2 separate regions of the Homo sapiens genome follow, and region 1 is linked to region 2. Evidence: fine-mapped expression QTL. A gene starts in region 2. The other region holds a variant in brackets. All regions are shown on one strand. Distances are from middle to middle. Region 1 overlaps BLK (BLK proto-oncogene, Src family tyrosine kinase). Region 2 holds the start of FAM167A (family with sequence similarity 167 member A).

The links. PIP is the estimated chance that this variant, and not a neighbour inherited with it, causes the effect.
Region 1: its variant is fine-mapped to the expression of FAM167A in lymphoblastoid cells (GEUVADIS, PIP 0.95).

What each region holds. Positions count from the first base shown.
Region 1 is chr8:11,502,603-11,507,033 of GRCh38, reverse strand. The region is part of intron 1 of BLK (BLK proto-oncogene, Src family tyrosine kinase); the gene reads right to left. Among named protein-coding and RNA genes, the nearest start is that of BLK, 10 kb to the right of the region's middle. RefSeq lists enhancers at 172-231, 3,519-3,658. The variant T/CTTTTCTTTTCTTTTCTTTT (reference allele first, on the strand shown) is at 2,622.
Region 2 is chr8:11,464,551-11,468,550 of GRCh38, reverse strand. It overlaps FAM167A (family with sequence similarity 167 member A), which reads left to right and starts at 1,798. Exons shown (of 3, transcript NM_053279.3): 1 at 1,798-1,925. RefSeq lists an enhancer at 1-635 and a silencer at 1,881-2,090.

The sequences.
Region 1 (4,431 bases), 38 kb before region 2:
CCTCCTATTTGTTATTTTCCCTACCCGCACCTGAACCATTCACGATGGTTCTGCACCCATTGTCACAGGAAAGCAGAAAGAGAGACAAAAGAACTTTCCTGCTTTCAGCCCGTGATGCAGATCTTTCAGCCCGTGACTGAGAGATCTTGTTGAGTCAGTTTGGGCAACCGCGTCTCAAGTGGCCTCCCTGAGAGTCCCACCTGGGGGGCCCCAGAGTGGGAGGATGCATCCCTCAACCTGGGATGTGGCCTGGAATCTCTGAGAGGGGGCTTGGCCAGGGTCAGAGGCTGACATGACATTCTAGCAGCCCCCTGCATGGACTGATGACAAAGACCAAATAGGCCACCCCAGAATTCCTGAGACTCATGAGGCTCCCAGAACTTAGACCCCACCCTGGAGAAAGGTATGAAGACCCTGAATTGAGAGGTCAGTTTCCTCTCCCCAACAGAGATGTAGCTATTACCAGATAGCTTTTCTGTTTTTGCACACCAAGCTGTGGACTGAGATTCACACTCAACATACGTAAATCCAGTCTGTCAGTCATTCACCTGAGCCCACCCACACCCCTCCAGAGGCCAGGAACGCCCTCATAAGAAGCCTAACCTGCCCTTCCACCTTCCATGAAACTAGTGCCATGGCCAACAGTTACAAGGATTCAGCACATTCTGTTGTTTTCTTTTTTTCTAAAAAATGATAAATGAGCCAACTACATCTTTCTGAGTGTCTTCAGGCTGTGACCTTGGGAAGGCAAAAAGCCCTGGCATTGTCCTCCCCTAGGTCTGCAAATAGGACATAAAACAGCTTCAAGCACATTCAAGGTCACCTTAAAGACACCCCACGATGTGGCAAAGAGACAGCTCCAGAGCCAGGCTGGTAACCTTCTGCGTGACCTCAGGAAAAGCACTCAGCTCTCCAGGTGTGCGGTGGGGAACCAGGATGAAGAGCCACGTGCACCTGGCACCTGGCCCAAAACCTGTTCTACCATCTGCCTCCCTGTTGGGCCCACTGTGGGAAGAGATTTGTCATGCCTGGCGGGGACAGGAGCAGGGCGAGAGGAAGATGGGGAGAGGTCTTATCGGAGGCAGGGACATTAGGACTGGACCTCCAAGGATACATAGAAGCTCTCTGAAGGAGATGGGCATTTCAGGCAGGGAGTGGAGTTGGCAAAAGCTCTGAAGTGTCATGTGTGCCAGGGAGTCCTCAGGGACAGGACAGATGGGCCCAGCGTGCTTGGAGAAGAAAGGAGACCCAGACTGTCCACTCCCTGGAGGCCTCAATGGGAGACTTGGCCCTTGTTCTCAAACACAGAGGAGTTTATGGTGGCTTTACCCTGTGCGGTGATAGGGCCACATTTGAGTTTTAGAAAGACCTTGGCAGCCACACATGGGATGAATTGGAGCATCAGATTCTGAAGACAGAGAAATGAGCTCCAAGGATGCGGAACTGCCCAGTCTAGAAGGGGGAGGGCCTGAACGAAAGCAATGGAGCTTGGGAGCAAATTGGAGAAAGGAGAGAACAAGTGTTATTACAACTTTGCCCTCACTCAGGGACACCGGCCAGAGGCTACAGTTGGCCCTGCATTGAGTTATGAGTGTCCAGGTCACCCTCTGGCTTGGCAGGTCACCATGCTGTGCTCAGGGACAAGGGGTGGAGGGAGCGGGTGCTGTCTCCCTTCTCCAGGCCCATTCCAAGTAGAAAACAGAGATCTCTTGCTATTTGACAACAGAAAACTTTGTACAGTAGAAAGAATAGAAAGAACTTTGTGAAGGATGATACTCAAGTGACTAGATTTCTACAAAATAGATGAGGTTTAGGAAACTTTATGGCACAGAATTTATTTGTTCAGTTTTGCTGCAATAGTATTTGTCATGGTAGGTGGTTTTGCTGTTGTTTTTGATAAGCATGTAGATGTACCTGTATGTGTGCCTGTGTATCTTTGTGTGTTCCTCTGTGTCTAGGTATTTCTACATGTCTGTGCATGTGTGTATATGTGTGGGTGTCTGTGTGTTTCTGTGTGTATTCTTATGTGTATGTGTCTGTATCTATGTGTCTGTGTGCATGTATGTGTCTGTACGTGTCTCTGTGCATGTGTGTTTGTGTGTACATATGCTCTGTATCCATTACCCCCTTGCCTGAAACATGGCCACAGAGATGTCCTCATTTTGGTGTTTCTTGTCGTAAAATCCTTGAAACAAAGTCCACATGGGCCACTTAGGCCAAACACCACATGCTGGAGAGCACCAGGGTGCCCAACACTAAATATGCCAGCACCCTTATCAGGCCTCATCTCAAGGGTGGGAACAGGGGGCACACTCCTCAGTCGCTTAGACCGTCCTCAAACAGCAAGTCACCATATTGGAGACAGTTTTTGAGCACATGCTCCATGTAGCCTGAGCTAGTAGCCCCTCCCGCCTGCAATTAACTAAAAGTATTTAGCTACGAAGACTGATAAAAGATCTTAAACGCACGTCCCTGTGATGGCATTACACACGGATAACCAGCTTCTGAAGGCGCCTACTTCTCCCCCTTCTGAAGGGCCTACTTCTTCTTCTGTGGCCCTTTCCTTGGCCACAAAGGGGTGTGGCTTTTGTGCAGGTGAATGGGATCTTTTCTTTTTTTTT[T/CTTTTCTTTTCTTTTCTTTT]CTTTTCTTTTCTTTTCTTTTCTTTTCTTTTCTTTTCTTTTCTTTCTTCCTTCCTTCCTTCCTTCCTTCCTCCCTTCCTTTCTTTATTTTGAGATGGAATCTCGCTCTGTTGCTCAAGCTGGAGTGCAATGGTGCGATCTCAGCTCACTGCAACCTTTGCCTCCTTGGGTTCAAGCAATTCTCCTACCTCAGCCTCCTGAGTAGCTGGGATTACAGTCGCACACCACCACACCCAGCTAATTTTTGCATTTTGAGTAGAGACAGTTTCGCCATGTTGGCCAGACCAGTCTCAAACTCCTGACCTCAAGTGATCCGCCTGCCTCGGCCTCCCAAAGTACTGAGATTACAGGTGTGTGCCACTGTGCCTGGATGTGAATGGGATCTTTCTAAAGCCAGGACCTAAGCTCCAAGAAAGGCTGGGGAGACTTTAGCCCCAGGGTAGATCCCTTCATCTCCCGGCCAGGAGCCTCTCTGGGGGTAGTTTTGATTCCCACTTGCTAGTTCCCACAGGACACTTGTCTGGGTGGCAACGTGGAGTGCCGGAACCTGGAAAGATGCACTTGACCAGCAGGGGAGGGTGGAAGATGGCCCCTTTCACTGCGAGCCCAGGGCAGCCAGCAGCCTCAGCAGAGGTGAGGCCCAGGCAAGAAAGAGGACAGAGTGACCTCTTCCATCCTCCACACCTGCACATAGGAACCTCCAGTCTGGTGACCAAGAGAGCAGGTGTCTCCTTGCAAGTCTCAGCCCTCAGACCTTGCCAAGAAAGAGCACCCTTGCTTACTTCAGACAGCACACAGATCCCTGGTCCACGGCAGGAAATCACCCAGCCACATGCTCACACTGACCTGGTGGCAAAGGCCTCTCTGAAAAGGGTCACCCTGTATAAGGCTTGGGCACAGGATGGAGCAGAAAAAAATAGAGCATCTCACGTCCCACCTGACACAGGGGCAGGTGACAAAGCTGCACCTCTCCCTTTGGGAGTTACTAGTCGTCTGGGTGTGCCAGCACCCCCAGATCTTTCTGATCAGAGGAAACCAGATAAAAGCCATAAACGCACTTTGCAGAAGAGTGCCCACCTACACACAAGCTCCCATCCAAGATCAGGAGCTGACAGGCTACCAGGAGACTCATCAGAAGCCCAGGGGCTAGAAGGTCAGAACCAGCTTAATCTATTAAGTGCAGAACATCAAATGTCCTTTTAGATGCTACGTGTGGTTGTGTGCTTCACACATACACAAACATTCTCTGCACTTGAACAACCTCAAGCATCAGGGCCTCCTTCAGTTTTGCACCCCAGGTGTGTCTTTACCTCCCTCTGGTCCTGGCTCAGCATCCCAGGTATCAATCTGTGCAAAGAGGCCAGCAGAGAGTAGAGATGAGAAGGAGCCCAAGGGGACATCCTTGTATCCCATGGTTGTGGAAAACAGTAGCCGTTTTGCGAGTGGGGACTTGCGAACCCCACAGTGGCTGGCAGCAGCTGGTGTAGGGACATGACAGCCATGGGGACAGGTTCTCCATCCAGGCCCACAGGCCCACCCCCCTTCCCCTGCCACCGAGCACAAAGCAGGGTCACCCACCTGGGCCTCCGCTGTCAGGCTCGGGACTCAGGAGAGCCCAGGAGGCAAGTTATTCTCCACTTGTCCCCACTTGGCTGCAGGCAGGACCCTGATCTGCAGTGTGGCCTCAAGACACTCGGCCTCCCCGTCAGTGATGCACTGGGGGCCAGCTTGTGCCGGTATGCTAGAGCCGGTTGTTAAATTCTCAGGAATTTTGTGAGCTGAATTATTCAAATCATTATGCAAGATTAAGG
Region 2 (4,000 bases):
GAGGCTCCTGCTTGCAAACATGGTTCATGCCCTTCCGGAGCCTACTGCCTCAGAGGGAGACACATACTAATCAAATAACCTCACAGGTAAACTTGGAATTATAACTGGTCCATGAAGGACATAAGGCAGGGGGCTGCCAGCACCTGTAACCTGGGGTTCCCTTAGGAGGCAGAGCTGCAGCAGCCTGTCGGGAGGAGCAGGTGCACAATGGGACTGGAAGAGGGTCTGTTGTCTGGGGAGCAGGGTCTGTGCAAGACAAGGCCCTAGAGACGGACAGAGGCCAGCCAGGCCCCTGCAGCCAAGCTAGCTGTTAATCCTCAGAGGACTGGGGGCGTTGAAGGCCTTTAAGCAGAAGCAGCTGAGACTGGATTTCCATTCTTAAGAGTTTCCCCTGTTTGTGGAGGAGTAACTGGCTTGGGAGGCGCTGAGAGAGGGTAAAGGGAGATCAGTATGGAGACTGCGTGCACGCTTGGACCCGGGTGGCAGGTCCCAGAACTGGGTAGGGCAAGCTGCTGGTGGCTTGGGTAGGGACAGTGGCAGCGGGCAGGAAGAAGGAAGGAGTGATGTTTAGGAGCTGGAATCAGAAGATCTGGATCAAGGCTGTGACTCTCCAAAAGATGCTTGTTAATACACCCGCTAGCTTAGGACCGTTCCCTCATTAGCATGACTAGGTCTGTACTGGCAAGATGTCTCCTTAGACGACGTCCCTCAGAGGACCTTCCAGTGAAGGTCAGAAAGGAAGGGAGTAGGTCAGGGCTGGATGCGGAGTTGCAGTGAAGGACGCGGGCACCAGAGGGCAGCACGAGTGTCTCGGGCCCCTGCAGGGGCTAAGACCCCACAGAAGGCCCGACCAGCCGCGCACCTGCCTGGAGCCTGCGCCAGTCACTTTGCAGCCCCACCACTCAGCTTCGCGTCTGGCCATGTAGGCGGCGCCTGCGCGCACGCCCAGGGCTATCGTGAGAATGGCAGACTGGAGCCCTTTGAAAGACGCTTCCAGCCCCGGGCATCTAGGAAAGGTGCTTGATGAGGTCTGGGGTAAGAGACCCCCATCCAGTAACCAGCCTTGGGGCCTCCAGTGTCTGGCCTGGGCCCCTCGTCAGAAGCTGGGACTGGTCCTGAAGACCTGCGGTCCGGGCAGCTCGGGCTGCTGTCCTGCCTGTGCCTTAGGGTTTGCAGCTCTGGGCTCTGATGCAGCAGGGACTGGGTCTTAGAATCTAACGACAGCCAGAGGTGGCCGATGCCGCGCCCCTGGCGGGACAGACACCCTGTGGTTAGTGGGGCAAACGCTCGCGTCTTTGCACCTCAGTTTCCTCATCTGGCAGCCAGAGATGCCTACACTTGCCCTGCTGGGTCGTTGGGGGGCGTGGCCCACGGTAGGCGCTCGCGGGCAGTCGTGGCCGCGGGTCCTATGAACTCCTGCCGTTTGGGGGTGGGTGAGGCCCTGGGCGTGGGGTCCCCCTGCGCCCTCCATGCGGACAAACTTCTGACAGTGGCGCAGTCACGTTGCCACAATTGGGGGAAACTGCCTTGGTTTCGGGTTTAATGAGAAAATGGATGTTTGGGTTTGGTTTCATCTGGGGTTTGGCGAAGGCATGTAGTTCCTCTCCACTCGCGGGGGCTGCCCGGGCCGGTGAACCGACAGGGCGCTAGGACCCGGGGCGCGCTCGGACCCGGGGCGAGAACGCGAGGCCGGGATCGCGGTGAAAGGCTCGCGGCGGAGAGCTCGGCCGTCGCCAGGCAACCGCCCTGACGCAACGCAGGGGGAAAAAAAAAGTCCTTTCCGAAAGGAGCAGCGCCGAGAATTCACCGGAGCTCGGGGAGGCGAGGCGGGAGCCCTGAGCTGAGGCCGGGCAGCGCGGACCCGCGCAGGAGGAGGCGGCGGGGACACCGGCGAGTCCCCAGCAGGGCCCCTGGGCTCCCGGAAGGTGGGTTCGCGCCGGCGGCGGGGACTTTCCCAGGGACTGGGAGGTGTGGCCGCGGCGGGCGGCGCAGTCTGGGCAGGGGCTGAGGCGTCGCAGGTCCCCAGCGCGAGCACTGGCCCGGAGCAGCCCGATCCCAAAGCGCCCTGGAGGGGACGCGCTCCTACCGCCCCCCCGGGAGAGGCCGCTCATGCGCTCCCGCGGGTTCGCTGCCCTCCCAGAGGAGCCGGGCAGCCAGGGCTGGACTTCATCTCCTAGCTCCCTGCTGGCCGTGTCCGGGCTCGGATTCTGGGTGGAGGTTCGGGGTCTGCCGTCTGAGAGGGAGGGCCGCACTCAGCCTCTCCGGGTCCACTCCCAGGCGGCTGGTGACCTCCAAGCCCAGCCTGGCTCCTGTGTATAGGTTCAGTGAGATGGAAGTTTCTGTCCCCACGGATGCGGTCCCTAACTAATGGGAGGTGGCCCAGGGCACCTGGACCCAAGGGTGCTCTAAGGACCCAAGCCAGTGTGACCTGAGGGAACGGCACAGCCGCAGGGGCCCCCGGGAATGAGCAGGTCAGCCGTGAAGGTGGGCACCCTGAGTCACCGAGACACCGGAGCACAGACGGCGGGGGGGAGGGTGTCTTCTTCAGCCAAGTTAGGTTGGATGTATAGGTTTTCTGCACACCCGTTACTGCCTGGTTTTTATTCCCGGCGGGGCTTGGAGGGAATTCTGAGGACTGGGACCTCCTGGGAAGATCTGGAAGGAGGGTTGACTCTAGGTTGGGGGCTGGCCACTGCCGTATGCCTGCAAGCAGGTTCTCCCAAGTCAAGTTTCCACAAACTCCCCGTCATTGCTGGAGAATCCCAGAAGATGAGATCACGTCCTATCCACAGGGTTTTCACCAAGGGGCACATGCTCCAAAGCAGCTTCCCACTGACACAGTAGACACAGTCCTGCCCCTCACTAAGCTCGGGATGGAGCGTGGAGAGCGTGGACAAAGTCTTGGGAAAGCAGAGGTGCTGTGGCGCCTGTTGCCTGAGGGCGTTGGCAGGATAGGAACTTCTGCAGCGTGTTTTTAAGGAGCTTGGAAAGCAGCCATGGGCTGTGCTTGGAATGGATAAAGATGACAGCTCTTCTTTCTTGAGTGCATTTATGGACCATGCACTACTTAGAAACCCTTCGCATCCCTTGGTCACTCCATCCTCCCCATCAGTCTTCAAGGAGACTCTATTATCCGTTTTGCCAATGGGACTCTAAGAAATTGAGTGACCTGGTGTGGCTCCCACACCTGGTGAGAGAGCAGAGAGTCAGCCTCACGTGCCTGACTCCCGGGACAGTGCTCTCAGACGAAGGCTGCTTTGGGAAATCTGAGGCATCTAAGGCCCAGAGAGGGGCAGAAACCACTCACGCCCAGATGAAATGAGAACTGTGTCGTGGGGCTCATCTTATGACCTGAGAAGGTCCCCTGCCTGCTTGAGGAACCCTGTGGAGCCAGGAAAGCCATTTCTTCTATTAGGAGCTTGCAAGGCTGTGTTGTTGGGCCTGGCCGGCCTCAATTCTTCCCACCTGAAGCAGAAGAAAGGGTTGCTCCCCCACACCCTGTTCTCCTCCTTGCCTGCCCAGAGCCCCCAGACTCCCTGCGCACTTGCTCCTGTTCTTCTGGTCCTCGCAATTACATGCATGGATTTCTACTAAATTGCCAGTCCCCGCCTTCCTGTCTACTAGCTTGGCCCCCCTCCAGGAGGAACTCTGGCAGGGAAATAAATTAAGGCCATGCCTAACTATTTGCTGAGAGAGAGCCACAGAGCCCCAGGCCAATGAGGAAGAAACTACTTGCTAGGCTTCTCACACCCTGGCTGCTGTGTTCTCTAGGCAAATCTTGCTCACAGAAAGCCCCGTTGGCCCTACAGGAGCCCCGGTATTCCCAGAACCCTTTGGGAGCTGTGCTTTCCCAAGGGACTTGAGCTGCTTGCAAAGGCGGAAAATGAGTAACTGAGCACTTTGCTCCTGGTTTCCAGACCAGGGGTGGGAGAGCACGCACGTGCCACTAACTGGAAATCCCTTAGGATTAGCCTGGCTGGCTGTTACTGTGCAAATGCAC